Homo sapiens: one gene and its partner. The protein of the gene in region 1 purifies or fractionates together with the protein of each later gene. This does not show direct contact. Each region holds a gene or a part of one and is shown in the gene's direction. Other genes may lie near its edges.

Region 1 (3,286 bases):
AGGATCAGCCCGACCGCATTCATCTACTACCCTGCCGACCGGGTATCTACCACTTCCAGGGTGAGTGGCTCCTCTTCCCTGCCCAAGGGTTCACAGTCTAGTCCCTGCCTTAGCCCCAGCTCAGACTTCAGGGCCTGCCACTCAGGGCTTGCTCATTATAAAAGGAAAAACAGGCCAGGCGCAGTGGCTCATGCCTGTAATCCCAGCACTTTGGGAGGCTGAGGCGGGCAGATCACGAGGTCAGGAGATGGAGACCATCCTGGCTAACACGGTGAAACCCCGTCTCTACTAAAAATACAAAAAATTAGCCGGGCGTGGTGGCGGGTGCCTGTAGTCTCAGCTACTTGGGAGGCTGAGGCAGGAGAATGGCGTGAACCCAGGAGGCGGAGCTTGCAGTGAGCCAAGATCACGCCACAGCACTCCAGCCTGGGCGACACACCGAGACTCCGTTTCCAAAAAAAAAAAAAAGGAAAAACAGGACCTCTGTTGTTTTCACACTTCAAAGCCCCAGGGTGGGTTGGCAGAACAGAAAACAGTGGAATCCCTATTGGCGCTCCTGCATTTCCATAGAAGGACCCGCCAATGCAGGCAGGATGGGGCAGCTAGGGGAGGGTGGCATGCCTCCACAGAGTCCCTCCAAGGCCAGATCGCTGGAGGACTCCCCTGTGAATGGCCCACCAACCTGAGCTCTTCCTTCTCCAGCACAGGGGGGATCCTTCTGGTCAATAACATCCTTTGGCACCTTTCGCCCTTGGGGCAAGTTTGCCCTCAACTTCTGTATCGAGCTTCAGGGGAGCAACTTACTCACTGTACTGGCCCCCAATGGCTTCTACATGCGAGCCGACCAAAGTGGCACCCTGTTGGCAGACAGTGAAGACATTACCAGAGAGTGTATCTGGGAATTTTAGGTAAGGGAGAGGAACAGGTAAGGGGCTAGGGGAGCAGAAGCCATGGGGCAAGAGGAGAAGGGAGGTGGGTGGGGAGGCATGTGATGGGAAGACCAAAATGCACTCCCAGGCTGACTTCTGTCCCATAATTTGATCAACTCCAGACATTTATTCCTAATCTGTGCCATTTCTTTAGAGCTTACAAACCTGGGCTTGCTAGAAAGGGGAGACAGTTTCCCACTGCTATGCCACACTGACAGGTGGGCTTGGAAGCACGCTTGGAGGGGACAGGGTGAGGTGTTCTTGTACATTTCTATCTCCATTAAGATGCAGAATTTCACTCTATTTTTAGGGAAAACGGATGACTTTGATCATGTGTGTAGGTGAAAAAAAAGATGTGCTTTCTATCCTTTGCACCTTCTATCCCTACCTCTTGGACCCCTGGGTCTCTTGAATATTTTCCTCAGCCCCAACCCTTCTCCTGACCTCTAATGTCATGTCTCTCCAACCTCCTGATAGACAGTTGACTTGACTTCGTCCTGCCAGTTCCTAAAAATCAACATAGCTGATATCAGCCTGCTCATCTTCCCTTCCTAAGGTGATCCTGTTTTCCTGCCTTCCCCAGGGCCATCTTGGGCATTCCCTCCTCCCAAATGCTCAGGCTCAAGAGCTCAGCATGATCTCTCCACCCTTTCTTTCACTTCCTTCATCAAACCCTGCAAATACTTGGCTACTTCTTTAACAATGCCTCTTGTGTGCTTGCTCCTTCTTAATTACCATTGCCACCACTTGGCTCCAGGCTTTTCTCCAGAAGCACTGCTTCTAGGGCTCCCCGAAAGCATTTCCTGCTGCCAGATCTGTCCATCCAATCTCATCTCCGACATCCAATCTCATCTCCACAGTTTGCTTTTATAACGTGGCGCTTCCCTTCCATCATTCCCTGTTCACACTCTTCAGGGCACCTTGTTGCTCTTTGTCCTGTCCCTTCCTAATGGACCTCACTTTCCTGACTTATTGTGCAAAGTGCTTTGTTTTTTACATCACACAGACCTGGAATCAAGAGCTATTAAGCTTCTTCCTTTAAGTTAACTTCACATGTGTCTAGGGTGGATCCCTCATCAAGAATAGGATAAATCACTATATTCTTTTTCTCCCACAGGATCTGACCCAGTATTCTAAAAGCCAGAGATCAGCAAATGACTGACTTGATTGCTGACCATTTATATTTCCTCTTTCCTCTCCAGGTCAATGGGATGTCACCTACCAAAATCCAAATCCTCCAGGAAAAACTACTACACTAAATGGACCAGGAACCTCAGAGTCAAGATCCAAGAGAAGAACATCTGTTACAACTTTTCCTACCCAGTTTAGCAAAACACCTGTTTTATGCAACAATACATCACAACAGGCCACCCCCAAGATCCTTGTGTGCATCTGACTCAATATAGAATAGGGGTCTGGATGAGGGTTGAAACAGACACCCCAGGCTGCTCTAAGTTCTATACAGGAGAGACCAAATGGCAAGCAGTTCTTCCACTGATCTTCCCCGTCCCCATCCAGAACTGCTAGACTTTTTCCAGTGAACCCATGAGCAGCCAGCATTGCCCTGAAGGGTTTAGAATCCAGTTATGACTTTAAATATCTTTTTGGTTTAGAAAAAAGGAAAGATTGTTAATCTCGTGAGCACAGGATAATGGTAATAACACCTTATGCCTGTATAGGCCACTTTACCTCCTCCTACCACGATTTATTTAACTTCCCCACCCATCATTACCTTTTTTCCAGTGAAGTGGGTACTTCCTCCACCACTTCTTACCTTTTTTTTTTTTTTTTTTTTTGACAGAGTCTTGCTCAGTCACCCAGGCTGAAGTGCAGTGGCAGTGGTGTGATCTTGGCCCACTGCAACCTCCGCCTCCCGGGTTCAAGCAATTCTCCTGCCTCAGTCTCCCAAGTAGCTGGGATTACAGGCGCCCGCCACCACCCCAGCTACTTTTTTTTTTTTTGTATTTTTAGTAGAGACGGGGTTTCATCATGTTGGCCAGCCTGGTCTCGAACTCCTGAACTCAGGTGATCCACCCGCCTCGGCCTCCCAAAGTGCTGGGATTACAGGTGTGAGCCACCGTGACCGGCAGACTTCTTACCTTTCACAGACAGCAAAAGTGATTTGCCCAAGATCTCATGACTAATCACAACACAGCTAGGCTTCTGACTCAAATCCAACTCTAATGTCCACCATTCTTTCAGTCAAAGCAGGATTTCCAAAATGTCTGTCATTCTTACACTGTTTTTGTGATTTTGGCCTTTATCTACCTACCATCTGCCCTATTAATGTTTTTATTGACATAGACTCTTAAATACATTTATTTAGAAAGGAATATTTTTTCACTATCATAAAATGG
Region 2 (3,831 bases), on another chromosome or scaffold:
TTTATTCTCCATTTTTCTACATTAAAGTATTAAGATTAAATGTGTTATATGGAAAGGATTTGAGGGAAAACTTTTATTTCAACTATATAAATAAACGTGTGAGTTGTGATGTAAAACCTAGTTTTTACTGAGAGTCATGGCAAAAATAATTTGAAAAACAGTATCCTAGAAAAACTTTTACCCCGTGTGAATGGGAAAACATACAGCAATGTAAATGCTGCATTATTTTGAAATACTAAAAACTTAGGATAAATTCCATATAATGGAATGCTTATGCACCAATTAAAATTAGAGCTACAACACAAATAACTCTCAAAAACATAAGATTGACAAAGAAAAAGGAAGCTGAAGCAGGTTATATACAGTATACCATTTATGTGCTTTTAAACATGAAAAATTATATTGTTTAAGTGATACATTAGGAATGCAAAACATTCAAGTTTTAGATAATGGCTACCTCTTGAATAAAGGGGATTTCAGCCATATCTAGTATTTATTTTTTAAAAGTAAATATGATAAAATGTTTCCTTTTGTCAAAGGTTTCCTTTTGTCAAAGCTAGGTGTTTTCCCTATACTCTTTATGTTCAAATGTGCTTTAGTGGGTAACAGAGAGTCATCAGTAACCTAGTCTTGAAAGCCATCAGTTGCAGTGGGTTCTGCCTATAAACCCAGAGGTGAATGCAAAGTAAAAAGAAAAAAAAAAAGTTGGGGGGCAGGGAATAAATGGTGAAGAAAAGGCTGGACGTAAAAAGGAATAAAAGCCTGTTATTTGCAGCAACGTGGATGGACCTACATGTCATTACATTGAAATATGCCAGGCCCAGAAAGACAGTATCACATATTCTCACATGTGTGAGCTAACAAACTTGATCTCGTGGATACAGAATATAGAATGATTGATTGATACCAGAGTGTGAGCATGGGAGGAGGAAATGTAGAGCAACTGGTGAATGGGTACAAAAAGAGTTAGATAAAAGACAAGCTGTATTGCTTGATAGCACATTACAGTGACTATAATTAGCAACAATATATTGTATATTTCAATGTAGCTAGGAGAGAGGACAGGAAATGTTACCAACCCATAGAAATGATGAATACTCAAGAGGATGGATACCCCAAATACTCTGACATTATTATACATTTTATACGTGTAACAAATACATGTACCCATAAATATGTAAAATATCATGTATCAGTAAAAGAAAAAGGCTGGATAGAGAGAGGTAAAAATAGGAGAAATGAGAGCAGTCAGTGCACATAAGAGTAATATGCTTGTTATACTGTGTGGCTACACTGGTTAAGGAAATTCCTGCTGCATATAACCCAAATTTGCCATTAGAGGTTAAGAAAACTTTCCACTTAACAATTTAAAAATTATACAACTAAAACATCCATTATTTAAAAATCAACATAAAGAAGCAAAAAAAAAAAAAAAAGAATAGTAATCAAAATTACACCGTTGTTGATATACTGTATTCCCTTCTAGGTTTTGGGTTAATACGTCTGTACATTTTTTCTTTTTTAAAAAGAAAATGAGATCATACTAAAAGAATCACACTGTTTTATAACCTTTTTTCCCATTCACCAATATGTACTGAAAAACAGTATTTTAATGGCTGTATAGTTTTTCCATTATGTTAATATGTCATAATTTACTATGAATCTCCTGTTGAGTTATTTTAATTCTAATGTTTCACTAAACATTTTTAAAAAACATCTGCAGTAGAATCATAACATACATCTTTATTTCCCCAAGATAAGTTGATAGATGCTAAGTGAAAAGGTATGCATATTTTTGAGGGTTTTAGATCCTCTCTAGTATTCTACTTTTCCTATTAGTATAGGATAAATAAGACAAGATGACTGAAATGAAAAGGATAGGTGTGAGACATTAATATTATCAATTATTCAGCATAGACATGTGTAGATTTTATTTGGAATGCTGCAAGTAACATGTACTACTTGGGTCAAAATAAGCTCATTACAAAATAGGTTATCAAGTAGTTCATTATTCTAGTTAAGAATAAATTGGGTCCCTACGTTTCCCTTTTTGACCTAAGACATTTTCCTTTGTAAAGAGTACTTGGAAACTGGAAGTACCAATGGATTTTCTTTTCTCTATTTTTTAAAATAAAGACTTCATGAGTCCTCTCCATTAGTACTGTAAGAGAAAATGCTCTTGGAATAAACTCTAAGATACATGACAAAATAAGCTGCCCTCAACAGATAAAATCTTCACCTACTTTGGTCACCAGGGAGGTTCAAATTAGCCGGGTATTAGAAAAGTTTCCATCAGTAGGAAAGGGAAAGCATCCTCTAGAACTAGATCCGTGGTGTGGATATCAATTGAAAGGCCATACTTGGGATGAAGGCATAAATAAGGTAGAGTCATTGTGGAGATGGCTCATAGAGGAAGAGACGTCTGTGAATTTATCCTCAAATAATTTTCTCATAAATAAAACTTAACAAGTTAATAGATCTCAAAACCTGGAGCTATCCAAATGGTGCAGTGATAAGCGTAGTGCCCCAAGTACATTTTTCTTTTAATTGGTATTCACATAACTAGCTATAGTAATAATTATTAAATAGTGAAGTCCATTGTGAAAAGCAAGGGCCATGTTTCATTTATTTTTGTTTTTTGAGCTTTTATCGCGTTTAATAGTAGGCAATCAATCATTGTTGAACTAAATAACTCATTCTTTCATTCTTAACAGACTGGATTATGGACAGAACTTGGAAATATTGAGAATAATTTCTTAAAGCCACTTCATATAGGACTTAATATGTCAAAAGCACATTATGAAGCAGAAATTAAAAATAGCCAAGGTTGGTAATGTGCAATTTTGTTTTCAATTAGGTCTAAAAAGTAGTCTAATTTTGGAACTGTCATATTCAAATTTAAGAACTTTTTAAAAATCTTGTACTTTAGAGACCATAACAGCTAAGCCATTTTATTTATAGTTAAAATTCTTAGCAGATCTATAAGCTAATTTACCTAAAATCGGGTTAATGAAGACTTAAACCAAATATTACATTGTAAAGCCTCAAGGTCTGATTAAGAATCTGTATTACAGCTATTTCCGTTTGGGTACCATTCCTTTGGTATTGCTGGGTCCACTCTCCATCTCACTCTCAAGTAAATCCATACAAATTATGAAAAGAATCTTAGATCCAGAATTTTTTTAAGTCAATAATTCTATAATAATCGTGTGATCTCTTCCGTATATCTGTGGTGGTGCTTTTATAGGCATTACCGGAAATTTTGTTTTTAGTATAATGGCTATAATTCTGATTATATACTGAAGAAAACAGTTTCATGAATCCTATACATGCCAAAATAATGCTATTTATCTAAAGAAGCATTAATTTACATGTTGCAGAATTTTGATATTTCATTCTGTTTGCTTATAGCTTAAGTATACCCTGAGCTGTTAAACAATGGACTTAATAATTTATACAAATAACTGACATGTTTTAAGTTAGTGAATGAAAGTAGCTTATACCTTTGTTATTGAAATCTGAGAGTTAAGTGTCACACATGATTTTTCTTCTCTTACAGAGGCCCAGAAATCTAAAGATCTTTGTTCTATAACTGTAAGTGGAGAAGAGATCCCTAATATGCCTCCTGAAATGCAGCTTAAGGTGATCTGAAATTTTCTTTTCTTTCCTTTTTCTTCTTTAGAAACGGGGTCTTGCTATCTTGCCCAAGCTGGAGTGCAGTGGCATGATTGTGGCTCACTGCAGCTTCAACTCCCTGGGCTCAAGTGATCCACCCACCTCAGATTCCTGATTAGCCAGGACTGCAGGTGCACACCACCATGCCTGGCTAAT

What was found.
Region 2: the proteins of FSCN3 (region 1) and GLMN purify together in Homo sapiens (affinity purification with mass spectrometry; 2 studies listed by BioGRID and IntAct, with this or other methods). This does not show direct contact.

The regions. Positions count from the first base shown.
Region 1 is NC_000007.14:127,599,492-127,602,777, forward strand, and holds the end of FSCN3 (fascin-3), read left to right. Parts: coding exon 1-60; intron 61-702; coding exon 703-908; intron 909-2,131; 3' UTR 2,132-2,653; downstream 2,654-3,286. UniProt on the Homo sapiens protein: Acts as an actin bundling protein.
Region 2 is NC_000001.11:92,246,873-92,250,703, reverse strand, and holds part of GLMN (glomulin), read left to right. Parts: intron 1-2,714; coding exon 2,715-2,826; intron 2,827-3,559; coding exon 3,560-3,642; intron 3,643-3,831.